Linked DNA regions of Homo sapiens. The protein of the gene in region 1 purifies or fractionates together with the protein of each later gene. This does not show direct contact. Each region holds a gene or a part of one and is shown in the gene's direction. Other genes may lie near its edges. The genes, in order: FGF17, NOL12 and ANKRD17.

What was found.
Region 2: the proteins of FGF17 (region 1) and NOL12 purify together in Homo sapiens (co-immunoprecipitation; 2 studies listed by BioGRID and IntAct, with this or other methods). This does not show direct contact.
Region 3: the proteins of FGF17 (region 1) and ANKRD17 purify together in Homo sapiens (co-immunoprecipitation; 2 studies listed by BioGRID and IntAct, with this or other methods). This does not show direct contact.

What each region holds. Positions count from the first base shown.
Region 1 is NC_000008.11:22,037,181-22,048,452, forward strand, and holds the start of FGF17 (fibroblast growth factor 17 isoform 1 precursor), read left to right. Parts: upstream 1-5,639; 5' UTR 5,640-5,748; coding exon 5,749-5,783; intron 5,784-5,964; coding exon 5,965-6,001; intron 6,002-7,368; exon of another isoform or gene 7,369-8,792; coding exon of another isoform or gene 8,793-8,933; coding exon 8,934-9,111; intron 9,112-9,346; coding exon 9,347-9,453; intron 9,454-10,775; coding exon 10,776-11,069; 3' UTR 11,070-11,272. UniProt on the Homo sapiens protein: Plays an important role in the regulation of embryonic development and as signaling molecule in the induction and patterning of the embryonic brain. Required for normal brain development.
Region 2 is NC_000022.11:37,686,797-37,695,507, forward strand, and holds the end of NOL12 (nucleolar protein 12), read left to right. Parts: intron 1-1,113; coding exon 1,114-1,219; intron 1,220-1,515; coding exon 1,516-1,564; intron 1,565-2,053; coding exon 2,054-2,196; intron 2,197-3,900; coding exon 3,901-3,998; intron 3,999-4,377; coding exon 4,378-4,540; 3' UTR 4,541-6,678; downstream 6,679-8,711. UniProt on the Homo sapiens protein: Multifunctional RNA binding protein that plays a role in RNA metabolism and DNA maintenance. Participates in the resolution of DNA stress and the maintenance of genome integrity by localizing to sites of DNA insults.
Region 3 is NC_000004.12:73,072,124-73,083,202, reverse strand, and holds the end of ANKRD17 (ankyrin repeat domain-containing protein 17), read left to right. Parts: intron 1-4,312; coding exon 4,313-4,561; intron 4,562-5,669; coding exon 5,670-5,848; intron 5,849-6,098; coding exon 6,099-6,263; intron 6,264-6,912; coding exon 6,913-6,972; 3' UTR 6,973-9,827; downstream 9,828-11,079.

The sequences.
Region 1 (11,272 bases):
AGGGCTACGGCTGCTCAAGCTACCAGAAGGGGCCTCGCCCTAGGGGGCCAGCCCCCAGGGTCTTCTCCTGACCTTATTCCTGTCAGGCAGCTACTGTGTGCAGAGCATCTATAGGGAACTCAGGGACATCCGCTCTCCCTGCTTGCTTCCGTTAGGGGCCAGCTCATCTTATAGGGACCTCCCACATGTGAAGATCTGTGTCAGGCAGGAGCCAGAGGCCCGCACCTTCAAAAAAACCTTTGAGGTGGAGTAGACAGGGTGAGCTTTACAGAGGCGCCAAGCCCCACATGCTATCGAGTAGGCCTCAGTCAAGCATAGGGGCGAGGCCAAGAGAGGACTGGAAAATGGGGTGGGGGACCCCCACCCTCTCCCTGGTGTGCAGAGGGGACTCTGGAGGGCTGTTCACCTGTGGGTGACCCTGGCGCAGTTCCTAGAACAGGCGGACACACAGATGAGCCCTACACTCTGGGTTATCCATGCAGCGCCTCTGCTGGCTTCTCCCTGCCCCTCCCCAGCACCCTCTGGGGTCAGGCCCGAAGTGAACCAGTGGGGAGCTGGTCCTGCTGTCCTGCTTAGTACCCCCAGGTATGGGGCCCAGGAGGTCGGAGCTCTTTGAACACCTGCCTAGGAAAGTCAACAACCAGGCTGGGGCCTCCTGTCCAGCTATAGCTTCTTTTGAGACCAGAGACAGAGGTAGCAGAGGGCAGGGTTGTATTCATTTTTTTTTTAATTTTTATTTTTTTTAGAGACCGGGTCTCACTCTGTCACCGAGGCTGGAGGGCAGTGGCACAGTCTTAGCTCACGGCAGCCTCGACCTCCTGGACTCAAGCAATCCTCCCACCTCAACCTCCCAAAGTGCTGGAACTACAGGCACGAGCCACCACACCAAAACAAATTTTAAAATTTTTTGTAGAGATGGGGGGTCTTGTTAAGTTGCCCAGGCCAGTCTCCAACTCCTGGGCTCAAGAGATCCTCCTGCCTCAGCCTCCCAAAATGCTGGGATTACAGACGTCAGCCACTGCACCCACCCAGGGTGGCATTCTCCCTGCATGTTTCCTACACCCATGAGACAGATGTGGGTGCTGTCCTGCCCTCCAACAGACAAGCCACTAACTTTAGGTCACCCAGAGTCCCACCCTCCAACAAAGGGACAAACCACTAACTTCAGGTCACCCAGAGAGTGACAAGGGGGACTGCTCCATGTGAGCAGCTGGTGCTTTTTGAACTTGGTTTCATCTACAGTGACCCGGGGTAACCCAATTCCTCACCTTCAAGTCACTTACAGTCTAGTGGAAACAAAACCCAACACAATTTCAGTTACTGTCTGGTGCTTTGAAGGGAGTGGAACAGGTGAACTTGAGGGGCAGGAGGAAGCAGTTTGGTGAGAAGGTCTCCTGGAGGAGGCAACGGACAAGAAGGGCTCAATGGGCTTCATTAGGAGCTGGCAGAGGACGTTCCTGGGAACAGGAACAGAGCATGCAAAGGGTCCGAGGCAGAGCCCCACTTGAAGGGGGATCGGCTGCAGTGACAGCTTCTAATACCCACGACCCACTCCTTCAACCCTCATAACCGTGCCTTAAGGGGATTGTGACTGGCTCCATTTCTTTCTCTTTTTAATTTTTTTTTTAGATACTGGGTCACACTCTGTCAGCCAGGTTGGAGTGTAGTGGCACGATCATGGCTTACTGCAGCCTCGAACTCTGGGCTCCGCCTATCCTCCTGCTTCAGCCCCCTCAAGTAGCTGGGACTACAGGCATGCACCACTATACCCAGCTCATTTTTTTTTAACATTTTTGTAGAGATGGGGATCTCACTATGTGGCCCAGGCTAGTCTCAAACTCCTGACCTCACACTATCCTTCTATCGGCCTCCCAAAGTGCTGGGATTACAGGTGTGAGCCACCACACCTGGCCCAGCCCCATTTCCCAGATGAGGAAAGTGTGGCACAGAGAGGTTAGACAAGTTGCCCCAAGGTGACACGGCTGGCAGAGGAGCCAGGGAGTCCCACCCCAGAGCCCTGGATTTTGACCACTCTGCTGATGGGAGGGAGGCATGAGCCGGTGCACAGTTTATGAAGTCGTGTAAACTGAGAGCAGGAGTTAGAAGTCAGTCAACCATGTAATGGGAGTCCTCAAGGGACAGCTAGGCGTTTCTACAGCCAAGCGCATATTTGGCCCCAAGCACAAGAAGGCGCGCAACAGATAAACCAGTGATCACTTGATTTTGATTTGCAAGCAGGCAGTAGGAAATAAATTGCAAAGGTGGAGGCCGGATGCAGTGGCTCATGCCTATAATCCCAGCACTTTGGGAGGCCAAGGTGGGCAGATCACTTGAGGTCGGGAGTTTGAGACCAGCCTGACCAACACGGAGAAACCCCGTCTCTACTAAAAATACAAAATTAGCTGGGTGTGGTGGCGGGCACCTGTAATCCCAGCTACTTGGGAGGCTAAGGCATGAGAATCATTTGAACCCAGGAAGCAGAGGTTGCAGTGAGCTGAGATCGCGCCATTGCACTCCAGCCTGAACAACAAGAATGAAACTCCGTCTCAAAAAAGAAAAATTTGCAAAGGTGAGGGTCCATCCTCATTGCTAGGGTGCCCTTTGCCCTCTGCCCTTTGCCCTTCCCCTGCCCCAACTCTTCTGTTTTTCAGCAGGAAGAGGGTGGGCTGGGCTCAAGCAGGTGGTGGCAAGTGGCTGACCTGCAGGTGGGCTCTGTGTTTGCACCAGCTGGGCTGTTAGGAGAGGCAGGCGTGAGACGACCCCAGCTGGGGGGTGTTGAACTTGGCACTATGGGGTGAGGATTAACCACAGCAGCCCAGGCTACTTCTCAGTTCCCTTATCACCTCCTGAACCCCACCCCCCCAGCAATGAATGTTAATAAACCCCACCCTTCTTCCCTCCCCCTTTCCCCGAGCTCACTCCAGTCAAGGGAGAGAGTCTGACAGTTTAGGTCAACTGAGGCTAAGCCACAAAAAGGGCCCCTGCCCCCATTCTTGTGGCACTTGATGCGTTTCTGTGAGTCCTTTATCTCAGCTGACGTGGATGGCGGTGGTTTTGACAGTATCCCTGCTGGTAGCCATTTCCTTTTTATAAACTGGGACCCTGAAACCAGAGAAGTGAAGGGACTTGCCACAGGTCACACAGCGTATAAGGACCAGGGCAAAGGGGCGGGGATAAAATCAAGGGCTCCATGCTGCCTCCCCACTTGGGGCCCACCACTGGCTTCCCCATGGGCGTAAAGGAGCAAACCAAGTTAGAAGGCCAGGCCTGCAGGTGCCCAACAGGAAGGGACAAGGAGCCACAGCTGTCTTGCCTGTGACACAGGCCATCCAGCCATGCCCAGAGCTAACCCCCTGGCTAAGCCCCGAGGCCCAGCTTGACTGCTGGCATCTGTTACCATGGAGACCCAGGCTGGCCTGAGGGCTGGGCCAGTGATGGCAGGCCCTGTCCCCATGGATAGAAACAGGTGCTTGGGCTCAGAGGCCTTGAGTGGCTCCCACTGTCCCCATGGCCAGTGAGTCCCGACAGCATAAATTGGAACCGTTACCCACCTTTCGCCCCCCAGCTGACACCTCCACCAACCCAAGGCCTGAGCTGTCCCCTCCACGTGTCTGTGCTCTCTTTAATGCCCTGCCTGGGGGCTGGGAGTGGTGAGGATGTGGATGTGAGGTTGAAGGTTTCTCAGGGAATGAGCCAGAGCTGCCAGAAGAGGCAGAGTGTAACCCAGACTGCAGATGATGGGAAGAACGCGGAACAGAAGTGACCTGAAGGATCCGCAGGGGGAAAGCAGAGAGGTGGGCACGCGGGCACCTGGTACCTTGTCCCAGCCATGCCACCAGCTAGCTGTGAGGCTTTGGGCGAGTCCCTTGCCCTCTCTGGCTCTCATCCAAGGAATGAGGAAGTTGGAACAAATGATGAATCCCTAAGACCCCTTCTAGGTTTGACATTCTTTGAGTTGCATTCCAAAACCCTGGACTCCCCCAGGTAAGCAAGGCCAGGGCTTGCCCCATCCTCCCCACACAAGCTCAGGCAGCACCCACTCCTGGGCTGGGTTCCCGAGGAAGAGCCTGCGGAGAGGAGACCCCGGAGCTGCCTGCACTGGTCAGTGCATGGGGGCAGGGGTGGCAGACCACTTTGTGGATTGATGGAGCTCAGGAAGGTGAGAAGGGACCCACAGGTGAGAGTTTCGCTCCCCTGGTCATCTCTTTAGGTAAATAAATCCACATCCGCCACTTCCCCTTCCCTTCCCACCCTGGGGGCGCTGAGAACTCCAGGGAGCCCAGAGCTGAGGCCTGAGCTCTGCTTGCTCACACTGGGTCTTCCCTCAGAGACCCCCAAGCCCTCCTATCTTCTGCAGTCACCGTCATCCACTTTTCTGTAGGGAGGGAACAGCATGGAGCTCTCTGTTCACCGGTCTCCAGGACCTCGGATTCCACCTTTAATCCTGAAAACCCAGGAAGGCTTCTGTATCCCTACAATGAAGCAGGTTTGGGGCTGGATCTGCAGGGTGGCAACTCAATCCATGCAGAACAGAAGAAGCATGGACTTTTCCATTCTGGCTATTCCATTCACTAGCTGGGCCATTCTGAGCAAACTACCTCCCAATGTGCCTCAGTTTCCTCATCTGCAAAATGGGCTAGTCGCTGGCATTGTACCGAGCAGTATGAGACCGGAGGTCATGGGAAGAGGCTGGTAGGCACTTCATCCCAGGCAGCTGCTCAGGGACATGGGACACAGGGAGGGGACTCCGAGCTGCTCCTAGCTCAGAGAGGCTCTAGGGACAGGCACTGGAAGGAAGGGGATGCAGAATGGTGAGTGGAGCTGGGTCTCAGAACACAGACATCTTGAAGTCTGCTATGTGCTGATTTCACACTTGACCCCCCAACACCCTGAGGCATTACTGTCCTCATTTCTCAGATGGAACTACAGAGGCCCAAGGAAAAGGGGCTTAGGCCAGGACACCCAGCTCTTCTCCAAGTGTCTGTCTCAGGCTAGCTTTTGCAACTCTCCATTGGGATTCTTCCTAGATCTCCATCTGTACCTGCCAACCCACCTCTGACCCCCAACCTGTTGCGCCCAGTATTTGCTGCCGATCAGGACAGCCTTAACCCCTCCTTCCCGGGCAATCAGCTGCTCCAAGCCAAGCCCACCCCTGCCCCCTGGAGGGAGGCGGCTCCTTTTAAGGCTGCTTCTGGGAATTTCCACTCCAGAGCCAGAACCAGAGACCCCAGCCCCACTTGACACCTGCGGCTCACCCTTGGGGAGGTGGGGCGCCAGACCTGAGTGCAGGAGACGCAGACCTGGAAGGGCTCCCCCTCCCTGACCTGCCACACATCGAGTTTGTCTGCGTCGAGTTTGGCCAGTCTGTGAGGGTCAGGAATAGAGCAGGAGACAGCAGGGCCACCTCCTTCAGAAGGCCCCCACCGCTCCATCCCTGCACTGGGTGGCCCAGGAGAGACTGGCAGCCCAGAGGGCACAGCGCGCACGCCCCCACCCGCATCTGCTTTGCAGCCTCACTGGCCAGGAAGGTGGACACCTCATACCTCAGTCTCCCAATTACGCCCTCCTCCTCCCCCTCCTCCTCCCTCTTTTCTCTCCTCCTCCTCCCCTTTCTCTCCTCCTCGCCCCCCTGAAAACCTGTGGCTCGGAGAGACCTTGGCTTCTCTGGGACTCTACCCCTGGGGACTTCCCACATCTGCTCCTGAGCTTGGGGGCAGGGGGGCAACCGCCTGAGGAACCTCTCCAGCGATGGGAGCCGCCCGCCTGCTGCCCAACCTCACTCTGTAAGTGTGCTACCTCTCCCACTGGAGTTTCGTTGCCATTTCCAGCCTCAGGGCAGCCCTCCTCTTCCCGGGACTCCCACGCGTGCGTGCACGGGGCTGGCAGGGCGGGGGCGGGGGCCTGGGTGCACCCTAGGCTTGCAGCTGGCACCCACACCTGGGCTTACCTCCTCTCCCCACACAGGTGCTTACAGCTGCTGATTCTCTGCTGTCAAACTCAGGTAGGCGGGCATTCCCACCGGCTTTCCCCCAATTTTTCCACCCTACCTGACCAGGGCGGGTGCAAGGGACCGGCTCCTTTCAGGTGGACAGAGGCAGAGTCTGGCCTCTCCCTGGGTCCAGGAGGCACTGAGGTTTGGAGGGGAGTGAGCCTTTGACCGGGTGGGCAGGGAAGGGGGCTGACTGAGGTTTTGTCTCTGTCCTCCCTCTGAGGACCCTCCCCACTTCCCCTGGGTCTCTGCTCCTCTTCCTCCCTCTCCATCGGGTTCCCCCAGACTTGAGGGATGGAGCCTGGAGCGGTTGGAAGCAGGTGGAGGTGATGGCTCAGGTGAGGCTTGGGTTTGCCAGTACCTGAAAGGACAGGTTTTGATGCAAGACCACTTGTATGTCCTTCTCGCCACCCCACTCCCATCAATATGGATGCCTGGGGTGGGGGTCTCGTGAGCATGTCCAGAATGCCTGGCCAGGGTGAGGTGACTCCTCACCTAGAGGGCACAGAGGTCAAGCCCAAAGAGGTTTGTTTGGGACGGGATGCAGGGTTCGCTTCTCCACACTCCCCCCACCCCAAGTCGGCCCCCCACCTCCCTCCATGCACACCTCCCACCCCCAAGTCTCAGCCCCCAGTGCGAGGCTTGCTCCCTTTTTTGTGATCCTCCATAAAAGTGCAGCTATTAAAATGCACTGGTCCAGAACCGCTCTGGGGAGAGATCGCTTGGCTTTCCCAGGCCAGAGGCCCGCTTCTCTTCATATCCAGTGGGGACTTTTTTTGAAGGTAAATGCCTTTTCTCTGGGAGAGGGAAAGGGGCAGCCTTTGAAGCAGTGGGGGGGTGGGAGAGGGAGAGACAATTCCCCCCCCCTTCCTTCCCCCTTTTGCTCCAGCCCCGTTCCAGGCCTTTTGCTTCACACATCCAGGGGGAGCCAGAAGAAAGCCCCCAGCCTGGCTGGGAGGGGGCTGGGGGTGGGCCCAACCTGTTCTGGAGGGGAACTAGCACAATGGTGCGGCTGGCCGGGCGTTTATGGCCTGGCTGAGGCCCCATTCAGGACTCAGGGAAGGTGGCAAAGCGGTCCTTTCCCCCTTGAAGTGCCCCCTCACCCCCCTGGGAGGGGGGGCCAGCAGGCCGGACCACAGCCATGCTTGAGGGGCTGTCTGACAAGCAGCTGTCTGCAGTGGTGGAAGGGGAGGTCCTCCCGCAGCGGGAACATGAAAGGGACAGGCTAGGTCCCGCGGGGAGAGGGACTTGTGGGTTGTGGGCTGTGGGGGGGCGTGGGGCTGCTTTTGTGAAAAGCTTGAAGGGGGACGAGGAAAGGAGGGGGCTTCGGGGGGGCGCTTTCTGCTCCTGACCTGGAACAGACTGCCAGAGGAGGCCGTCGGCCAAGAGGGGCGGAGGGCCTGAACCTGGGCCAGGAGGCGGGGCTGGGATAGGCAGGACCCCACCCCCTGGAAGGGAGGCCAGCGTGGGGCAGGCTGGGCAGGTCCCCCACCCCAAATGCTCCAGGGTGGGGCGAGGGGCAGGTCTTGCAGAGGCTAGGCAGAGGCTGCTCTATGGGGAGGTGCAATTGGAAATGAGCAACGGTGCACAGTAAGTGTTAACCCCGCGCAGGTTAAATGTCCAGCTCTGAGAGCTGCTCCCTCACTCCCCCTGCCTCAAAGGTGATATTTCCCACCCCCTCCCTAGGAGAGAGTAGCCCCTAACAGATGCTAATCTGGGTCTAGCTCTGTCCAGATGGCTGAGGTTGGGCCTGGGATAAAGGTGGAATTAGGGATTTGGGGCAGGGGCTGAGAAAAGCTGTCCCAGCACAGGCAGCGGCATCCAGGTGGAGACAAAACCAGCAAAAAAGGTACATTCTCATGCTAGAGCTGAGGCTGTTGCCAGGAGCCAGGAAACCTAGCCCGGGTCGCACCTTGCAGGATGGAGGGGAAGAAGTACTCAGTCTCTCCCACTCAGCCTTACAGATGGGTAACGAGAGACCTAGCTGGGAGGCGGTACTCCTCCTGGCTTTGCACAGTGCGTGGGGGGAAATGGTTCCTCTCCCCCAACCCAAAGGGGAAGCAGGTGGGCGGGCGCATCCCACCAACTGGCCAGGAGCCTCTGTTACATTGTGGCTAAGGAGCTGCCTGCCAGGGGCAGCCATTGGGCCACCGCTGATAGTGCCTGTCCTCTTGGTACTGCCTCTGCCTCCCTCCGCTAAGGAGGCACCTTGCCTGCCTGCTGTCCCATAGTGCCCAGCCCCAGCCCCAGCCCCAGCTCCAGCCCATAGAGGAGGGAGGAACACTGGAAGGGCCCTGAGCACCAGGGGGCAAGGCCGGGAAGAAGATGGGTATGAGCTCAGGATTCCACAGTTAGTGCTTCAAAGAAATGCTCATGGGACCCTGCAGGAGCTTTCAGAGTCCCCCACATGCTCTCTGGTGACCCTAACTCGCAGCACCATCTGCTCTGTGCCCGTGTGCTGGGCAAGGGGTCTTTCAAGGCCAGTGGGGAGGATGAGGAAGGAATCTGGTTGTCCTGGCTAATGGAGCATGTCCTTGGAGTTCTGGGGGAGATGACAGGCTCTGGTCTAAGAGGTAGGGACAGGGGTTCTGTCCCTAATGAGCTGTGTGCCCCGTGCACCTCCTTCATAGAATACGAGGACGGGATAGAACCCTGAGGGCTCCTTCCAGCTCCCAGAGTCCTGATTCCAGGGCTGTGCTCTGTCAATAAGTGTCCCCCAGCCTGGGCAGACCCCAGTCCCTTCTGTAAGGTAGACGCAAAGCAAAGAGGTTATGACCGGCTCACCCAGGGGCCTGGGAAGGCTATGGCCATATGCCCACTTCACTCTGCAGGACAAGTGGCCTGTCCCCACTATATTCACCTCCTCACCCCTCTCCCTTGGATGGACCAGTGGTGGTGTCACCCAAAGCAAATTGACACTATTTTTCCCTTGGTAACCGCAAAGGGGGAGAATCACCCGTCTCCTAATTTTAACCAGTACGTGAGGGACCAGGGCGCCATGACCGACCAGCTGAGCAGGCGGCAGATCCGCGAGTACCAACTCTACAGCAGGACCAGTGGCAAGCACGTGCAGGTCACCGGGCGTCGCATCTCCGCCACCGCCGAGGACGGCAACAAGTTTGGTGAGAGTTGGCCCTCCCCCCAGGGCACCCACACCTCCACTCTGCCTCACTTCCACCCTGCCTCACCTCCTGGTCCATCCCCAGATCCTGTGTCAGGGCTGAGGGCCCCAAGGGCCTGAGTGTCCCCAACCCCTTCGCCTGAGTCTGGAGGTCAGTGTGGCTGGGTGGTCCCCTGCTGTAGCCATAGGCCGGCAGCCCCGATGGACGGAGGTCTTTCTCCCCTCCCCCACCACAGCCAAGCTCATAGTGGAGACGGACACGTTTGGCAGCCGGGTTCGCATCAAAGGGGCTGAGAGTGAGAAGTACATCTGTATGAACAAGAGGGGCAAGCTCATCGGGAAGGTGAGGCTGGGAGACTGGGAAGTAACAGAGAATCAGCCCTACTGGGGTGGGGACATATAGGGCATCATGCTCCCCTCTCTCCTCTGAGCCACACACCCTCCTGTGTAAAGACTTCCCATCCTACTCTCAGCCCACCCACTGGGCCACTCTCTGGTTTTTATTTTAGAGTCCGGGTCTTGCTCTGCTACCTAGGCTGGAGTGCAGTGGCACAATCATAGCCCACTGCAGCTTTGTACTCCTGGGCTCAAGCAATCCTCTCGCCTCAGCCTCTGAAGTAGTAGCTGGCACTATAGGTGCATGCCACCATGCCCAGCTAATTTTTTTTTTTTTTTTTGTAGAGATAGGGCCTCACTATGTTGCCCTGGCTGGTCTCAAACTCACGGGCTAAAGCGATCCTCCCACCTCAGCCTCCCAAAGTGCTGGGATTACAGGCGTGAGCCACGGAGCCCGGCCTGGTTTCTCTATTTAAATGAGTCCCCGGGACTCTATTAGCCCTCTGAGGGGACTGGCAAGCCACTGGGATCTGTGGGGCTGATGTCAGGAGTATTTCTCCAGCAGGCATCAGTAAGAGCTTAGCATCTACCTGACACTGCAGCCTCTGGGTGGAGGACTAAGAGCTGTTGAGGGTGGAAAGTGGGGCACAGATGTAAGACAGGAACTCCCCCAAGTTCAGTGGGGCCAGTGGGCTCCAGCTAGCAAGATAGACACTAAGCAGCTGCCCCTGTGACCAAAGCACACGGTAGGCCGGGCCCTGCTGGGTGGGAGAATTCCACTTCGTTTGAAACCAGGCAATCCCAGCTTCCCATTCGGCTGTCGCTGACCAAATAACCTTTGGTTTGCTTATCTTTGTCAAGCCTCAGGCTTCTTGTCTGTAGAAATGGGCACAGACCCCTGATTGCAGACAGAGTGGGATGGGTGGCTGCACTGGCACCCTTCTTTCTTCTCATTGGAGGCTGCTGCCTCCTCTCCCATGCCCAGCAGCACCCCTCACCTAGGCTGCATGAGCATTTCAGTGCTAAGGGCCCGTGCATGCTGGGAAATGCCGCAGGTCCTTGATCTTCACCTACATCTCAGGAAGCTGAGGCCCAGCCTGGTTCAGGACCGCTAAACGACAAGCCTGCAACTCAGATCCACAAAGCGTGTTCTTGTTGGCCACTGTTGCCTCTCTAAATAGGATGCCATCTCACCAGGCAGAGTTCCCTGGGCTCACGGCCCCGTTGTTCCCGTTGTCCCTCCTCAGTCGTCCAAAATAGGCCGTAAGGGCGACACCCCAGACCAGGGTAGGTGGACAAATGCCCTTCCTGTCCTTGCTTCTCCCGCAGCCCAGCGGGAAGAGCAAAGACTGCGTGTTCACGGAGATCGTGCTGGAGAACAACTATACGGCCTTCCAGAACGCCCGGCACGAGGGCTGGTTCATGGCCTTCACGCGGCAGGGGCGGCCCCGCCAGGCTTCCCGCAGCCGCCAGAACCAGCGCGAGGCCCACTTCATCAAGCGCCTCTACCAAGGCCAGCTGCCCTTCCCCAACCACGCCGAGAAGCAGAAGCAGTTCGAGTTTGTGGGCTCCGCCCCCACCCGCCGGACCAAGCGCACACGGCGGCCCCAGCCCCTCACGTAGTCTGGGAGGCAGGGGGCAGCAGCCCCTGGGCCGCCTCCCCACCCCTTTCCCTTCTTAATCCAAGGACTGGGCTGGGGTGGCGGGAGGGGAGCCAGATCCCCGAGGGAGGACCCTGAGGGCCGCGAAGCATCCGAGCCCCCAGCTGGGAAGGGGCAGGCCGGTGCCCCAGGGGCGGCTGGCACAGTGCCCCCTTCCCGGACGGG
Region 2 (8,711 bases), on another chromosome or scaffold:
TAAATGATGAGCCAATGAAATGAGAGTGGCTTAAGTTCATTCATTCGCTCCCTAGACATTTATTGGGCTCCTTTGGTGTGCCAGGTCCCGTATCAGGAAGCAGAACCTCTGAGCCTCAGCGTCTGGCCAGATAAATAAATGGCACATGGTAGCGGGTCAGCGAAAAGCCCAGTGCTGGACCGTGGGACAAAATGGGAACAGAGCAGCTAGCACTGTGGAGATGAGAAGGGGCTGAGATTAGACCGAGGGAAGGAGGTAGGGAAATGCTGGGCATCATCAGGAAACTCCTAGCGTGCATCAACAGGCCCTACAGGCGAGTTTAGGGTCAGGTGTCCTGGGGACATGGGTGTTGGTCCAGTGCAGGGTTTCCGAAGGTCTGGATGGTGGTGGCCCTGAAAACCCTGTTGAGAGAGTAATGAGGTTTGTAGGTGTGGAAGGGGTTACCTCATGTACTGTGTGTGGCCCCCCCCCCCACCCGCCCCACAGCCTGGCCCTGTTGCCTGAACCTGAGATCCCTGGAGAGTATTGAGTGGAAAGAGGCAGTATCTCCCTTATTTTCCTAAATGTATCCTTTCTCTAACCTTGGGCAAGTAACCTAGACTCTGTGACTCAACGTTCCCATCTGTAAAATGGAGATTGATACCCACCGCACAGGTTATTGTGAGGGTTTTTTGTTTGTTTTTGAGATGGAGTCTGTGTCGTCCAGGCTGGAGTGCAGTGGCATGATCTCGGCTCACTGCAACCTCCGCCTCCCAGGTTCAAGCAATTCTCCCCGCTCAGCCTCCCAAGTAGCTGGGACTGCAGGCATGCGCCACCAAGCCCAGCTAATTTTTGTGTTTTTAGTAGACACGGAGTTTCACCATGTTTGCCAGGCTGGTCTTGAACTCCTGGCGTCATGTGATCTTCCCACCTCGACCTTCCAAAGTACTGGGATTACAGGCGTGAGCCACCATGCCTGGCCATTGTTGTGAAGGTTAAATGAGCTAATACTTACACTTTTTTGGAATGGTGCCTAGCACATAGTGAGCGCGGCATTAGCCATTTTTCTCCTAGAGCGAGCCCTTCTCTCCTTGTATAATGACTCTCCTGTCTCTGCCGGCTTCCTTCCTGTAGGGAGTACCTGACAGGCTTCCACAAGCGGAAGGTCGAGCGAAAGAAGGCAGCCATTGAGGAGATTAAGCAGCGGCTGAAAGAGGAGCAGAGGAAGCTTCGGGAGGAGGTACGCAGGGGGAAGGTGGGAGGGAGGTCTTTGATTCTTAGGGCACTTGCAGCCTTGGATTTCCCTAATAGAGGCAGCTGCTGGCATGGGGCGATGTGTGTGTGGGCAGGACTGGGGAATAGTTTATACAGGTGGAGACTCTGTGGGCCCGGGTCTGGGAGTGATGGAAGATGGAGTCTCCTCCTGATCTTGCAGTATGGATCATGGTCTCCCTCACCCTGGGGGTGATTAATACCCCAGCCTGAGGTTGGACTGAGAGGCCATACTCACTGTGTTCCCTGCCTGTGTGGTTTCAGCGCCACCAGGAATACTTGAAGATGCTGGCAGAGAGAGAAGAGGCTCTGGGTAAGTGGCATGCTTGGCCTGACCTGGAGAACAGCTGATGGGCCTGGTTTATACCCTTGGTGGGTGGAAGGGATAGAAGCTGACCTCCTTGGCCCTAGGGATCTTGGGGGGTACCCTGGGGCCAGGGGTGGTCCTAAGCACCTCTAAGTGCAAGTGGAACAGAGACCAGGAGAAGGAGTCCCAAACCCCATGGTTAACCAAGCCTGAGAAGAGAGCCCAGTTTTTAAGGATGGAAAGGACTAGGGGTGGAGGGGAGGGACAGCAGTAGCTGTCACAGAGGGTTTGTCTGACATGGGGACCAGCTAGAGCATGAAGGAAACGGGATCATTCACAACATTCATCCACAGACCAGGCTCTACAGCCAGTGACCTTGTGGATGCGCTCCACGTCCACAGAGTAGAGGGGGCACTGCACTCCAGGGCGGGAGGGAGGCTGGAGCCTGGTCACTCGTTCCCGTGACTGAGACCAGGTCTGTGTCCACCCCCACAGAGGAGGCAGATGAGCTGGACCGGTTGGTGACAGCAAAGACGGAGTCGGTGCAGTATGACCACCCCAACCACACAGTCACCGTGACCACCATCAGTGACCTGGACCTCTCGGGGGCCCGGCTGCTCGGGCTGACCCCACCTGAGGTGGGTCCCAGTCTCAGCCCTGGGAGGAAGGGGCGTGGGGGCAGACCAGCTTGTCAGGGTTGCTCAGTGCTGGCCCATGTCATGGGTATCCCACTGCCAGCCCTGGGAAGAAGGGGCGTGGGGGCAGACTGGCTTGTCGGGGTTGCTCAGTGCTGGCCCATGTTGTGGGTACCCCACTGCTGGGGCTCCTTCCCTTTGGACCCTTCATTCCCTGCTTCCGGGGTGCTGCAAAGACCAGCCCCACTGCTGAGCGGCTGAGGAGCTTGGGCAGGCTCCTTCACCTTGCCTGCTTCCCTTTCTCCATCAGTGAACTGGGGGTTGCTGATGGTGGCACCTGCCTTGTGGGATTGGTATGAGGGTGAAAGTGGTTAATCCATGTGAGTCACCTGGCACAGTGCCCAGCCCTGTCATAAGTGCTTCACAAAAGGTAGCCGTTTGTTGTGATCGTTCCCTTTGTGCGATTCGCAGCCCTGGCACGTCTGTGTGCACTAAGTGGGTTTTCAACCTGTGGGTTGTGAATCATGAGTAGGTTGCAATCAGCATAAAAAAAAAATATAATTGAAAATATCCGAAAGTGTCATGTTAAATATTGTTTCATGAGACAGCTGTTTCCACTGGAGTTGTATCTGGGTGTGCCTAAGGATTTATGGACATATATGCACACAATTACGATATAAAACACATTTCCTTGTGTGGGTTACTGTGTTCTTAAGTCCTGGAGCCACTCCCCTATCACATCCATACTGATCTCAGGGCCAGGCATGGTGGCTCACGCCTGTAATCCCGGCATTTTGGGAGGCCAAGGCGGGCGTTATCACCTGGGGTCAGGAGTTTGAGACCAGCCTGGCCAACATGGTGAAACCCCGTCTCTATTAAAAGTAAAAAAATTAGCCAGGGGGCCAGGCGCAGTGGCTCATGCCTGTAATCCCAGCACTTTGGGAGGCCGAGGCGGGCGAATCACCTGAGGTTGGGAGTTCGAGACCAGACTGACCAACGTGGAGAAACCCTGTCTCTACTAAAAATACAAAATTAGCTGGGTGTGGTGGGACATGCCTGTAATCCCAGCTACTCGGGAGGCTGAAGCAGGAGAATAGCTTGAACCTGGGAGGTGGAGGTTGTGGTGAGCCGAGATCGTGCCATTGCACTCCAGCCTGGGCAAAAAGAGCAAAACTCCGTCTCAAAAAAAACTTAGCCAGGCATGGTGGCGTGCACCTGTAATCCCAGCTACTCGGGAGGCTGAGGCAGGAGAATTGCTTGAACTCAGGAGGCGCAGGTTGCAGTGAGCCACGATTGTGCCACTGCACTCCAGCCTGGGTGACAGAGCGAGACTCCATCTCAAAAAACAAAACAAAACAAAACCATACTGATCTCACACCGGTCTTTCATTTTATGCTCACTATTCTGCAAGTTCTGATACAAAGACAAGTCTTGTCCCCGTTTTGCTAGGATTTTCATTCCTGAATGTTTAAGTATGTCCTGGAAGCTTCTAGGGGCAGGAAAGGGTTTGGAAACAGACCTTCCCCTGTGTAATCCTTGCTTTAGGGCAGATAGACTTCTTCCATCAGAAGCCTTCTCTAGTCCCAACCCAGGCCTGTGATGCAGCAGGGCGCGCCACCACTTGCCAGAGCCATGGTGGCTCGGGGTGCCCAGCCCAGGTCCCCCCAGCTACTGCTCCATGTAAGTCATTGTCTTGTGCCTCTTTAGGGAGGGGCTGGAGACAGGTCTGAGGAGGAGGCGTCATCCACGGAGAAACCAACCAAAGCCTTGCCCAGGAAGTCCAGAGACCCCCTGCTCTCTCAGCGGTGAGTCTTGGCCTGCTGCCTCCCCGGTCCCACCCCTCCTGGCTGGCAGTAGTGACCTGGCCCTTAGGGTGGTGTGGAGCAGGTGTAGGGCCCGGAGCAGCCCTCTGCCTGTCCAGTGATCCTCTGCCTCTCCTCATTGCCCCGTCCTGTCCCACCCACCCCTGATAGTGTCTGACCTCCAGTGCTTTTCGTGCCTGGGTGAAGGGCCTGTGTCTCTGAGCTGAGTTGCTGGCAGGCACTCTGGAGGTAGAGCAGGCCAACTCTGGCATGAACTTGGCGGTCCTGGCATTCGCAACCTGTCCTGACATCCCCTCCGTGAGCCAGGTGGTGAGTCACCCCACAATGCAATCTTAAACTGAGGCTTTCTGCCCTCCCCTAGGATCTCCTCCCTCACAGCATCACTACATGCACACAGCCGCAAAAAGGTCAAGAGGAAACATCCCCGACGGGCCCAGGACTCCAAAAAGCCCCCAAGGGCCCCTCGTACCAGCAAGGCCCAGCGCCGCCGTCTCACAGGCAAAGCACGGCACAGCGGGGAGTGAGACCGAGAACGAAGCGGTGCCCCAGTCTAGGCTGCGGGGACCTGTCCTTGCTCAGCTTGGCTGTCCCTGTAGCCCAGCCTGCACCTAGGTAATGACTGCACAGCTCAAGGTTGGGAAGCCAGGACCTCTCTGGCCTGGGGCCAGCTGCCTTTGCCTGGGGTCAGCTGCCTTTGCCTGGGGTTTGAATTCCCGAAGGAGCAGGCAGCTGAGAGCAGGCCTCCCCCAGGAAGAGCCTTCAGAGCCACGTGGGGGCATCTTCCCAAATGTGCACCCCACCTGGCACTCATCAGATTTGTGCGCTTGTGATTTGTTTGTCCTTGATACCACGCACAAGGGCAGGTTTTTGGGGTGGTGGAAATGGCCAGGGCCCATGGGTCTGTCTCCAGCAGTTAGCCCTGTGGCTGCAATAAAGTACAGTTCTCCCTGTGTTAAGATCCTAACCAGGGTTAAGGATCAGTGTGTCCGTTGCTAGAATCCAGAGCCCACCTGCTGCTCTGAAAAGCAGGCTCCTGAGGCCAGTGGGGGAGCAGTGCCCCCCATGCCCTTCACCGAGGAGCCTCTGTGCCTGTCCCTTGTCCTCGGCCCCAGGAGTCTCCTCAACTGACACTGAAGTGGTGGAAGCAGTTGAGTGCCAGGTCATCCCCCATCACCACACTGGGGCAGCGTCCCCAGGCTTCCAGCAGCTCCCAGGTGGGTCCCAACGTGGAAGGATTAATTAATTCTTTCTAAAGCAGTTGCAGCCGGGCTTGGTGGCTCACGCCTGTAATCCCAGCACTTTGGGAGGCCCAGGCGGGCAGATCACTTAAGGTCGGGAGCTCGAGACCAGCCTGGCCAACATGGTGAAACCCTGTCTCTACTAAAAATGCAAAAATTAGCCAGGTGTGGTGGCACACGCGTGTAATCCCAGCTACTTGGGAGGCTGAGGTGGAAGAATCACTTGAACCCTGGAGGCGGAGGCTGCAGTGAGCCGAGATCACGCCATTGCACTCCAGCCTGGGCAACGTTGTGACCTTGTCTCAAAAAAAAACTAAAAAATAAAGCAGTTGCATCTTGACTCGTACAAAAGTAGCCCCCACCAGAGTAGACCCTGCGGGTGCCAGCTAGAACTCCACAAGGGGCCATGTCTTCACACTCCTTCCAGATGGATGAGTTGATGGAAACCCTGTCCCTTCCTTGTCCCAGCTTGTCAGTCCTGGGCAGGAGAGAATTTCAGGTTGTGCCTTGGTTAGAGGAGCTGTGTTGGGTCCTAAACACTAGGACCACAAAGGGGAGTGAACTGTGTTCCCAGGGCTTGCTGACGCCCGTGGACTATGGAGTCAGGATGACAGGACAGTGCGGTGAGGGGCATCTGCGACAGGACTGCGGGCTCTACCCGCCCTGATGTGGGAGCTCCTGGAGTGGGGGTGAGCAGTGAGCCAGGGTCTGCAGGGCTGTCCTCTCTCCACAGCCAACAGCCAGGCCTTACAGTGGGGCAGGCTTAGTGACTGTGCCTCAGTTATGCTGTACCTGGGAGTGGGCAGGCCCTCTCCCATGTCACCATCAAAACCCACTGATGAAGGCTGGTGGGAGTCTGAGGGCTGCACCCGGGTATGGTGAGTTCCCCTCAGGGATTGTGCTGAGCGCCTTGGCCTGGCTTCTTGGCTCCGCCCACCTGCTCTCCCTGCCACCAAGTTGTCTTCCCCGGGTGGCATGTGCCACTTGGCTGCCTCGTGCCTGGGCACAGTGGTGCCTATTATGGGCCCTCCAGGTGGCTCTGGTGCTCAGCCTGCTGTGAGCAGGAACAGCTGAGTCCCAGGGGTTCTTGCACACAGCAGGGCTCGGGTTTGAATCCAGGCTCTGCTGCTTGGTCGCTGCATGAGCTTCTGCTGTGCTGACCTCTCTGGTTTGTCTCGTCATGTGTAAGGTGACACCAGATACCTACCTCTTAGGGCTGCCCCGAGACTAAAATAAGACCATGTGCATGAACCACTTACCAAAGTGCCTGTTGCTCTCCAGGTGTGCCTACCGCATGTTGCCGCTGCTGTTTCTGCTGGGACGTCTGACTCCAGTTCCTTCTCCCCTCTCCAGTGACAAGGTCATTTACAACTTACATTTACAATTTATAGTGTTTACCAGTATTAAATTCTCAGCCACTCCTTTCCATGTGTGCCTTCATTTCTTCCAGCAGACCAGGGAAGTTGAGTCACAGTGATTTGACCAATTCTAGGATCAGGGTGGTGGATTCAGAGCCCTCTGGAGAACTTGTCTTTTCTCCAGGAGCCCCTCACCATTGCTGTGGAGGCACCTGGGCTCCTTCCTCCTGTCGCTTTCCAGAGTTGGGCCTCTGAGAGATGTATGAGGAAGAGTTAAGTTTAGCTGCATATACTCTAAAACAAAATTGAAAAACAACTGGCTTGTGTAAAAGAGTTCCCATCCCAAAGATGGGAGGTTCCCAGCCTGGAGCTGGGAAGGCTGGAGGCTGGGATGCCGGGCTTCTAACTCTATGCTGTGTTCTATGTTGTGTGCCATTTTCAACACATGGCCCCTGCCTCACAGCACAAGGTGGCTGCTTGAGCTGCAGCCATTATGTCTGCATTTCAGCCAGCAGGACAGAAAAGGGGATGAAGAACATGCCCCTCCTTTTGAAAACATTTAGGGCCAGGTATGGTGGCTCACGCCTGTAATCCCAGCGCTTTGGGAGGCCAAGGCGGGTGGATCACCTGAGGTCGGGAGTTCGAGACCAGCCTGACCAACATGGAGAAACCCCTGTCTCTACTAAAAATACAAAATTAGCTGGGTGTGGTGGCGCATGCCTGTAATCCCAGCTACTCGAGAGGCTGAGCCAGGAGAATTGCTTGAACCTGGGAGGTGGAGGTTGCGGTGAGCCGAGATCATGCCATTGCCCTCCAGCCTTGGCAACAAGTGTGAAACTCCGTCTCAAAAAAAAAAAAAAAGAAAAATTGGCACTTGGCATGTCCTGTTGGCCAGGCAGGAGGCAAAGCATGAGGCAGAGGCAAGGGAGCTCTTAGCTACAAGACAGGCTAGGAACTCTTCTATTTATTTATTTTTTGAGATGTAGTATTGCTCATCATCCAGGCTGGAGTGCAATGGTACAATCTCGGCTCACTGCAACCTCTGCTCCCCGGATTCAAGCAACTCTCCTGCCTCAGCCTCCCCAGTAGCTGGGACTATAGGCACCTGCCACCACGCCTGACTAATTTTTGTGTTTTTAGTAGAGATGGGATTTTGCCACGTTGGTCAGGCTGGTCTCGAACTCTTGACCTCAGGTGATCCACCCACCGTGGCCTCCCAAAGTGCTGGGATTACAGGCATGAGCCACCCCGCCCGGCCAGGAACTCTTCTATTCTGGGAAACCAAGTGCTCAGATGAGAATTGGGGATTGTGTTAGAAAGGAGAGAATGGGGCCTGGCACAGTGGTTCGTGCCTGTAATCCCAGCACTTTGGGAGGCTGAGGTGGGCCAATCACCTGAGATCAGGTGTTTGAGACCAGCCTGGCCAACGTGGCGAAACCCGATCTCTACTAAAAATATAAAAATTAGCCAGGTGTGATGGCAGGTGCCTGTAATCCCAGCTACTTGGGAGGCTGAGATGAGAATCACTTGAACCCGAGGGCCAGAGGTTGCAGTGGGCCAAGATCACACCACTGCACTCCGGCCTGGGTGACAACAGCAAGACTCCATCTCAAAAATGAGAGAATGAGGCCAGGCGCAGTGGCTCACACCTGTAATCCCAGCATTTTGGGAGGCCAAGGCGGGCAGATCACGAGGTCAGGAGATCAAGACCGTCCTGGCTAACACGGTGAAACCCCGTCTCTACTAAAAATACAAAAAATTAGTTGGGCGTGGTGGCGGGCACCTGTAGTCCCAGCTACTTGGGAGGCTGAGGCAGGAGAATGGCATGAACCCGGGAGGCGGAGCTTGCAGTGAGCAGAGATCGCGCCACTGCACTCCAGCCTGGGCAACTGAGCGAGAATCTGTCTCAAAAAAAAAAAAAAAAAAAAAATGAGAGAATGGGTGTTGGGGTATAATCAGCAGATTATTTCACAGAAGCCAAATATATAAAGGGCTGTCATGAGGGGATCCATCTGTGTGGAGCTAAAGTCACAGCAGACATTTATCCATCCTCGGTTTTCACACCAAGGTCAGGCCCTGTGCTAGTACATGATGAGCTG
Region 3 (11,079 bases), on another chromosome or scaffold:
CTCACATATTGCATTTGATTATGTCTCTCAGATTTTGTAATTAATAATTTTAAACTTTCAAGAATACCACAAGGATCCCTTGTATATTTTTCCCAGATTCACCAATTAAACTGCATTACTTCCTTTCCTCATCATATATTCCTCTGTGTGTGTGTAAAATTATTTTATTCCTGAACTATTTTACAGTTAGTTGTAGACGTCAAGCCCTTTTGCCCCTAAATAACTTAGTTTCCTAAATATAAGAATGTTCCCTTCAACAACTATGATGCAGTGTTTAAATTCAGCAAACTTTACATTTTATATTATTATCTAATATATGGTGCATATTTACATTTCATCAGTTATCTCAATAACTTTATTATTTTCTCTCATCCAAGATTCTAATTAGGACTGCAAGTTACACTTAATTCCCATATCTCTTTAGTCTCAAATAATCTAGAACTGTTCTCTGAGTCTTTCTTTAACTTTCAAAGAAAGATTCATTTTATGAAGACTACAAGCCAGTTGTTTGCTAGAATGCCTTTTATTTTTATTTCCTACTATTTCTTCCTGATTAAATTCAGGGTATGTTTAATAAACACTGAACTAAACTGTGAGAAATGTGCAGTGTAATTTTACTGTAGGAGCACTTTTTGTTCTTCTCCTTTCTTTTCATGTAATTTTACTGTAGAAGCACTTTTTGTTCTCTCCTCTCTCCTCTCCTTTTCTTCTCACGAGTTCTGTCTCTGTCACCCAGGCTGGAATGCAGCAGTGTGTGACCATAGCTTACTGCAGCCTCAATCAAACTCCTAGGCTCAAGCAGTCCTCTTGCCTCAGCCTCCCAAGTAGCTGGGACTACAGGCACTTGCCATAGCACCCAGCTAATGTTTTTATTTTATTTTTATGTATTTATTTTTTGTAAGATGAGGTCTTACCATGTTGCCCAGACTGGACTTGAACTCCTGATCTCCAGAGATCCTCCCACTTTAGCCTCCCAAAATGCAGAGATGCTGAGATTACAGATGTGAGCCACCACGCTTGGCCCCCCTTTTTTTTTTTTTTTTTTTAAATAAAAAGATAATGTATCTCTCTGTTGCCCAGGCTGGAATGTAGTGGCACAATCTTGGCTCACTGTAACCTCCACCTTCTGGGCTCAAGCAATCTTCCTGCCTCAGCTTCTCAAGTAGCTGGGACTACAGGTGTGCACCACCATGCTTGGCTAATTTGTTAAATTTTTTTTTGTAGAGATGAGGTTTTACCACGTTGCCCAGCCTGATCTCAAACTCCTGGCCTCAAGTGATCTGCCCACCTGGGCCTCCCAAAGTGTTGGGATTGCAGGTGTGAGCCACCACACCCAGTGGCCCCACTTTTTGAATTTGTAAATCACATTGCTCTTTCAATTTTAACTCAGGACTCTGTTATCATTTCTAAACTGTGGTGAAGTTACCGTGGTATCAGTGAAACTTAAATCCTTAGGCCACTTCATTTTATGGGGTACTTCCAAGTGCTGTACATGATTTTTTTATTTGTAATTTTTCATTCTTCTAAAAAAGGTTCCCAAAATTTTGTAAGTTTAAGGCCCCACAAAACCTAGATCTGCCCCATCCTCTGAAACCTGTTTCTCTAATATATAAGCTGATGTTTTTAAATAACATGGCTCTGAATTAAATTTTGCTTTTTTTCTAATTGAAGTAATTATAATAATTAGAGATGTGAAAATTATTTTAGTTAGGTTCTTTTCATGAAAAGGAATATAGGCCCATCCAGGGACTCTCATGGAAAATGATGTTTATATAAGGCTATGCAGAACCATTTTCCAAACCGTCCAGGACTTAGGGATAGCTATTCTCTCTCTCTCTCTCTCTTAGAGGATTTGTGGTCTCTCACTCATGGTCTGTTTCTTGTCAGTTTCTTGCATTCTGCTCTCTTTACACCTAAACTTCTTCATAATCTTACCTTGTATATGCACATCAGTGGTTCAACTTCATAATTAATTAAACCAGTTAACCCTTTAATTCCCCATTCTTTGATGAGGAATGTGATTGGCTCAGCTCATATGTTCAAGTCAGACCATTTCAGTCAGATTACTGACTAGCCTAAAATAAAACTTGGATGGGTGCCTATCCTTAATCCAATAGTTGTGCAGAGAGGGAGCAGAAAACAGGGTCATCTGATAAAAACTATGACTAGAGGGGTGGCAGAATCTGTGCAGAGAGTAAACTTCTTAAATGGCGCAGCTCAGCGGGCAAGCCTAGTAATTCTGTTTATTAAAATAGAATGTGTAGGAGGCTGAGGTGGGAGGATGGCTTGAGGCCAGGAGTTTGAGGCTGCAGTGCACTGTGATTGTGCCTGTGAATAGTCACTGTACTTCAGTGTGGGCATCATAGTGAGACCGTCTCATAAAAAACAAAACAATGTGGAAGGTTGTTGTTATTTTGCTCTACTTTGGTTCTAGAAGGATACAGGAAATAAAAGGGAAACCAGAGTGAACACAGAGGTTAAGGTAGGCTCCCAGGGATGAACCTAGGGGAAAGCAGGATTCATTTGTTTATCCTTCTTTCCTTCCTGCCTGCCTGCCCTGACTATGTCTTGATGTTAGTTGTTCTGGGTTGATTTTTCCTAGAGGTTTAGGTGTGGCCTTTCAATATGTAGGTTTTTAAAAAACAAGCTTTTGTTATTTATCTTTGTGTTTACATTTACATGTCTGTGTATTCCTTGTAGTTTTTGTCTGTTTTCTACTGCATGTATAATTGCAGAATTTGGTTTTATTTGGTCTTTAGCTAAAATATTCTTTTACTTCTAACACTTTCCTGAGTTTTGTCATATTGTTTCCGTTTTACTAATTCTGAATTATGCTGTTCCTTCATATCATTTTCTTTTCGTTCATTTTTGAATTTTAGGTTATAGCTTTTTTTCTGGAGTGCTTTTATTGTCAACAGGAATGCTATAGGTCTTTCTCTTTTATCTTATATAATAGGCTTATTTGGAATTCAACTGCAGTTCTGTTGAATCTGCAGGTAACAGTTTTGATTTTTAAGCTTCAGACTCCTTTATTATTTATACCATTTTAGTTTAAATGTGCTTTAATATTTAAGCTTTTTTGGGAGGGGGAGGGGGGATGGAGTCATCTTGCTCTGTCACCCAGGCTGGAGTGCAGTGACACGATCTCGGCTCACTGCATCCTCCGCCTCCCGGGTTCAAGTGATTCGTCTGCCTCAGCCTCCTGAGTAGCTGGGACTACAGGCGCGTGCCACCACGCCCGGCTAATTTTTGTATTTTTAGTAGAGACAGGGTATCACCATATTGGCCCCTCGAACTCCTGATCCCATGATCCGCCCGCCTTGGCCTCCCAAAGTGCTGTGATTACAGGTGTGTGCCACCGCGCCCGGCCAATATTTAAGCTTTTCACATAAAATATAATTTTGGTTATTTTTGTTTTTTCTCAATAATGTATAGAGATTGAATCACTAATGAATAGTCTCAAATCAAGAAATCCACCTTGTTTGCATAAGTAAAAAAGATTCTCATTACCAAAAGCATGTTCTGTGAAGTACTCACAAGATAAAATAAAACAGACTTAGGCAATGATCCTCTTATTGGTATTTTATCAGTATATATAATGTTCTATAAACTTCAGTTCTAATTTGAAGAAACTTTTTTTTTTTAAACTGGACATGATGGCTCATCCCAGTAGTCCCAGCTGTTCAGGAGGTTGGGGTGGGAGGATCGCTTGAGCCCAAGAGTTTGAGGCTGCAGTGAGTTATGATCGAGCCTCTGCACTCTAGCCTGGACAATGGAGCAAGACTCTGTCTCCAAAAATACATAAATAAAATAAATAAAAAATGAATAAATAACAAAGAAACGTATTTCTTTTTCCTAGGCTAGGTTTTCCAAATTTATTAGATAGCTGAATCTCTTTTTCATCATAACACAAAGAGCAAGTATTCCCAGGGAATACAGTTTGGAGATTGCCACTACAGGCAGTGATTCTTACCCATCTCCATTCTGTTGTTGTTGGTTTGTTTTTTAATTTAAATGTCTTATTGCTTGCTACATTTTACTTAATGTCAAGGGTTAATTCATTTGAATATTATTTAATTTAATGGTTTATTACCTTTGTAGTTGAACATTTTGCAGCATTGACATCATATTCTACCTTGAAGTCATGGAACTTTAGCCAAATTTTAATATGCATCATTTTTAAGTATTATTTTTACACTTTGTTTTTCTGAGAATATATATTTAAAACATCTCCTGGTTTTAAGATTTGGTTTTATAAAATTACATGTTCTATAGATGACCTGTATTTTATTTCAAAATATCTCTTCTCTAGATTCTTCTGCACAGTCAGTATCCTCGGGAGTTCGTGCACCATCTCCTGCCCCATCATCAGTACCGTTAGGGTCAGAAAAGCCCAGCAATGTGTCTCAGGACAGGAAAGTTCCAGTCCCTATTGGGACTGAACGTTCTGCACGTATCAGGCAAACTGGAACGTCAGCTCCATCTGTTATTGGGAGCAATTTGTCTACATCAGTAGGACATAGTGGCATCTGGTCCTTTGAAGGGATTGGTGGCAATCAAGGTAGGATATTCTGTCCTGCTCTCTAGAAATTAACTTAATGCATTTAACTATAATGTAAACAGTATTTAACTTTAATAGTCATTTCCTTTTTTTTTTTCTTTTTTTGAGATGGAGTTTCACTTGTTGCTCAGGCTGGAGTGCAATGGGGTGATCTTGGTTCACTGCAACCTCCACCTCCCCGGTTCAAGCGATTCTCCTGCCACAGCCTCCCAAGTAGCTGGGATTACAGGCATGCGCCACCATGCCCAGCTAATTTTTTTTTTTTGAGACGGAGTCTCGCTCTGTAACCCAGGCCGGACTGCAGCGGCACAATCTCTGCTCACTGCAAGCTCCGCCTCCCGGGTTCATGCCATTCTCCTGCCTCATCCTCCCAAGTAGCTGAGACTACAGGCGCCCGCCACCACGCCCGGCTAATTTTTGTATTTTTAGTAGAGACGGGGTTTCACCGTGTTAGCCAGGATGGTCACGATCTCCTGACCTTGTGATCCGCCCGCCTCGGTCTCCCAAAGTGCTGGGATTACAGGCGTGAGCCACTGTGCCCCGCCTGTATTTTTAGTAGAGACAGGGTTTCACCATGTTGATCAGGCTGGTATCAAACTCCTGACTTCAAGTGACTCACCCACCTCAGCCTCCCAAAGTGCTGGCATTACAGGCATGAGCCACCACGCCCAGCCTCGTAGTCATTTCTAAAAGATCTGTATTCCTATTTTTTTTGTTATGTGAATATTTAATCACTTCTTTATGAGCTCTGTCCCCATGTGACCTTTCTCATTACATGTATTTATTACTGCTTTCAGAAAATATCTAATGCAAGCATGTTCTTTTCTTCCTTTCATCATATTAAGGACATAATAATATTTCCTTTCAGTCCCTTTAGGTTGTACTTAGGTTTTTTTCTTTTGTTTTATAACACCAAGTTTTTAGATTATTTCATTAAGCTATTATGTCACTACTTACAAACCATGGAAATATTGCTGTAAATATATAAAAGTAGGTCATTATATTGAAATAATTTACGGTTCAATGTGGAAAATATTAGAAAAACAAAATATTTGATTTTGATTTTAAATATTATCTATTTTTGTTTTGCCTCTTTGTTTGCCCTCAGACAAAGTAGACTGGTGTAACCCTGGGATGGGAAATCCTATGATCCACAGACCGATGTCTGACCCAGGAGTATTTTCACAACATCAAGCAATGGAGCGAGATAGTACAGGAATTGTAACTCCTTCTGGTACATTCCATCAGCATGTTCCTGCAGGCTACATGGACTTTCCTAAAGTTGGGGTAAAGTCCTGATTTTGTACTAGTTATTTAAGGGAGGATTTTCTGAGAAAATGTTTTGAATATAGTAGGCATATGTATAATCTAATGTTAAAATAAGTTATATAATGGGTAATAATTTTTAGATTTCTTAGATAAGTTACACATTCCCAGGATGAGGTGAACTTTCAAATATCAATTTTAAGGCTATTGATTATATTGGGAAAAATGAACAATGACTTGGATGTTAATGTGTGTGTTTTCCTTTTTTAAGGGTATGCCTTTTTCTGTGTATGGGAATGCAATGATTCCTCCAGTAGCACCTATCCCTGATGGTGCTGGAGGACCCATATTTAATGGCCCTCATGCTGCAGACCCTTCTTGGAACTCACTGATAAAGATGGTTTCCAGCTCCACGGAAAATAATGGCCCTCAAACGGTGAGGCTGATCATTCAGTGAATAAACAGTTGTTTTGTGTTTAAGAAATGCAAAGACAAATAGGATTCAGGTAACTCATGATAGCAAGAGAGTTTGGTGAATATGGGCAGTTGAGGAAATCTAATATAGCTGCAATATAGCAGAGGGCTGTGGGCAGTGGTACCAAAGGCAGGTTTGGGGCTAAAATTATGAAAGGTATTGTATATTCTACTGGGTAGCAGATAATAAATGAAAGATTTTAAGTTGCAAAGTGACTGTCATATGATTTTATACATTAAAGTTTACTAGTGGTGTGAAAAGACCATCTAAAGGTTATTTATTAAAGGTACTATAAATAACTCTGAGAATTCACATAAATGGTTGTATATTTTAGTTTAGTGTATGTTTAATATCTTTGATTTATTTTTCTTCCACAACCGTGAATCTATAAATGCTCAGGTAATGATTTTTTTTTTAAAGGTTGTAAATCAGATTCTGTTTGAGGGATAAGAGGTAGGAAAATAATAGAAAAAAGGTTTTTATCATTTTTTTCCATTAGTTCCTAGTATATTGCAAATTGAAGAGTACCTCCTTAGTTTTTTAAAAGTTTTATTTTAATAAAATATATGCTAGATATATATTTTGTAAAATGCATGCTCTATATTCATAGGTGTGGACTGGACCCTGGGCACCTCACATGAACAGTGTGCATATGAACCAGCTTGGCTGATGAGGATCAGCTTGTTAGCCTGCAGATTCCTTTTCATTTGGAGGAAATCACAAGTGGCCGAAAAAAAAAATTATGCTCCCAAATCATTCTACTGATGTGCTTGACTGAAGTGTGTAGGCTTTTTGCAGAAGATCTTACTAACTGACCTATTTTCTGTGAACATTTGTGACTGCCCATTCCCCATCATCATCCGTTTTACCTTAGTTAGCATTTTTCTTATCATTTTTCTTTTTTTCTTTCCCTCTTCCCCTTTGGACATAACTTTCTGTTGAAGCTGTTCTTTGGCTGGTTGGTTTTAGTACTGTAAACTGCTTCTGAGCAAACACGGAAATTTAGCAAAATTATGTAAACTTGATCCTGAAGTTTTAGAATGGCAAATAAATGTACAATTGTTTACATAACAGAAAAGGCTAAGCAGAAAGTAAATTTCAATATGTCAGTATAGAGGCTCTACTTTATGTAGACTTAAATTAATGTGAGATATGTACCTTCATATTCAGAAATCTGGATGTTTCCTTCATACATTAAACTATTAATAAGCATAACTTTTCTACTGGTGTAATTTAAGTATAAAGTAAAATAATGGGCATTATCATTGGATGTTTCCCCACATTGGCTTTTAAAATACCCATCTTGCTTTCTTTTTGGTTTATTTGTAGCAAGGCACATATAGAAGAAGAAATTTCTGGCTTTTCCATGTTGTTTTATTACCTTTTCTCACTTTTAAAACTAATACAGACTTATCTCCTCACTCCTTTTTCTCTCCTTACCTTTACCACTAATACCAGTAAAATTATCTTTCTGATAGTGAAAAGGTTCTGTCAAGATTTTCACTGTAATGGCTGCTACAGAGATGGACCATCTTCATCATCACCAGTGGTTTCTTCTAATTATAAAATGTTTAAACTTTCTGAGAATTTAAAAAGCCACCACTGTTCCCAGTCAGCATATACAAGCTCTTAATATTCTGTTTATTAAATAATTCAATGTACTATTTTATATTGGATGATATTGATTCTTAACATTGGCTTTTCAGTCATCAACAGTCAACATAAAAATTTCAATTTTCAGTAATTTAGTGGAAAATATCTTATTTCTTTTTTCAATTTTAAAGGCTTCCTGCTTTTTTACCCTTGTATATTATCAGTGAAAAGGATCAACAGTTAATTTGAGCCAAGTAATAAAAGAAATTCTGCATTTGTCACGAAGACAATTTATGGTAGACAGATAAATACACAGATTACAGTGTAAAGTCTCCATTTAACCTGTTTATAAAAGATACAAGGCCACACTAAACTACTCAGTGGGATTTATATATTCCATCCACTTGAAACAATAAACAGTAATGTATCCAAGAAGATTATGTGTCCTACCCTGTCTCATGGAAAAATTAATTATATGGTTGAAATGTAAAAGAAAGTAAGCATAAAAATCGAGTAATGTATATATCAATTTGTCTTCTTTTTTTTTAATTAGACATAAAATTTCACACTGGTAAAACATAAAAACTAACTAAAATTCATATAAATCACCTAGAGTTGATGATATTAACATGGTTCCTTGGTTGTCAAGTAAATCAAATGATTTCTTCCATCTGAGTAAAGAGTAAAGCCTGAGTAAAGAGTAAAAAGATGACTTCTCAAACATATCCAGAAATTTGTAAACAGTACACTCATATCTTTTAGTTTAAGAAGTGGTCTTAAAATATATAAATTTGTTTTTCCACCTATGTTTAATATGCCCAAATTTAAAGGGAGAGCTAAAAGACAGCCTACAAATAAATATAGCTATGAAATAAAATTATAGCACTTTACTAAAAAAGGGATGTAATAATGTTATTTAACGAAGTATTTTATATATGACTTGCCACTATTCTATACATAAAATTTTTTTTCTTAATTCTTTCCTGTGTTAACTAGGGTTATTTTCTATTTAAGGTAATCCTGCTGGAGAACAGATGCTATCCAATATTTATTACAACACATGAGTTGTGTTGTTTCACAATACTGAATTTCTTAGGTGAGGTATTTTATTTAAAAAGGAGGGGGAAAACTCCTATATTTTCTTGACTTCAAACCTGTGGGGCCAGGGGATATAGATTGAAATGCTCCGTATTTAGTCTTGGGGATCAGGCTTGTTTAGTACAATACCATGGTTTTAGAAGTCTGTACTAGGAACATTTTTAAAATACATTTTTTATATTTCAGATGTAATGCAGTGCACTTTTATTTGAACAATAAAAAAACCCATAACTTTTTGAGACCATGAAGGTCTTTTATTTTTTAATTTTGAAAATATGTGGTATGTGTATATGCAGACTACATCATTGTTTTAAGAAATGATTTAACTCTTGGACATTACACTTGGGTTAGTTCACACCTTAAATCCCCAAGTAGTTAATATCTCAATTATTGTATAATCAGTTTATACCATCCATTCCCAACAAAATTCCACATTTCATGCCTTTTCAACATACATTTCAACATAATCAACATATTTACAAACACTGACTTCACTGTTTATAAAGAAGAAATTTCCCCTCCTATTTCCCATTACTGAAAAGTCAAGTCATTTTTATTGATACATGAAAATTAATTTTTTTGTAAATGACTACGTATAGTCATTTTTCTCCTTTGGAAAAGGTAAATAGCTTATTAACTAATCCTGTCTTGTTCTTCACAAAAATAATAGTCCATCCGTGTTTTGACTCAAATAACCTAAATACACATTTTGTAAAAATTTTGTACCCTATATTACTTATTTTTAAAACAGTACAGTGTTAGACTAAACAGGAAAACTCAAAGTTATAAAATCTCTTCAGATCCTCTAGTTTATTAAATCTATTTTCATGTTGATGTTTTTCACAACACTTATTCCCACAGATCTGGCATTACAGAACATTTAAAGTGTACCAAAACATTGTTTTAATAACAGATTTTAAAATCAGGATTATTTCAAAATGATTAAAATAGCAAAGAACAACCAAGTCACTGCTTTTAATCACTATAAGCAGAAATTCAGTATTCCATTCTCAGTATATTTTACTTACGTAAATGAATCTATGCAGATATCTTACACTTTTAATGTTTGCTGTCCTTGACACTAAATTCCGAATGTTCCTTAATGTCTTTGGAAATACATATACTATTGATAAATGCTTGCTTAAGTCACAGCATTTGATTAACTCAGGTGACTGGAATTTAAGATGGGAGCATTATCAGTGCTTTAATAAGTCTTAATGTGTTGCACACCTTGATTGCAAAAATATCACTTGAATTTTGGATAAGTGTAAAAGAAAATGTGCTACTGTGGCTTTGACAGAATACCTTTGTAACGTAACAAAGTACAAACCTAATATCTGTGGTGTAGGAGGTTGCATATTATACTTCTGCTTTTAAATGGATTCACACTTCTGAAAAACAAAAGCCAACTTTGCATTTTCAATGCTTGAAAACCAATAATAAGAAAGATGGCAAGGGGATGTCTTTCAATAAAGAGAAAAAAGCCAATTCTAAATTAGGTAGCTTTGGTTTTGAGAAGTAGTGCCTTAAGTAAGAAAGAAAAACTGAAATCTTAATCTGATTCTAAGGGATCACTAACAATTGCTCATGGAAATAGTTTATTTCTTAAAGGTGTTTTGTTGTTGTTTTATATATACCCTAGTAAGCTACAGTCATTTAGTTTGACAAACATTTCAGAAGGCATATTTGGGAAAAGAGAAGACTAAATGATTACATGATAATTACACCCCATATTCAAATTTTCAGCACTTAATTCAGGCTACTACAACAAAAATACTGTTGACTGAGGAGATTAACAGAATGTGTTTCTCACAGTTCTGAGAGCTACAATGTCTAACGTCAACATGCCAGCCTTTATGGTTTCTGTTGAGGGCCTTTTCTCTGGTTTGCAGATGGCTGTTTCCTTTTCAGTTTCTTTGTGTAGGGCAGAAAAAGGTCATCTTGCTTTTGTCTTTTCCAAGAGACAGGATCTCTGTCACCCAGGCTGGAGTGCAGTGGCATGATCATAGCTCACTACAACCTCAAACTCCTAGGTTCATGTGATCCTCCCCACTCAGCTTCCCAAAGCACAGGGATTTACAGGTGT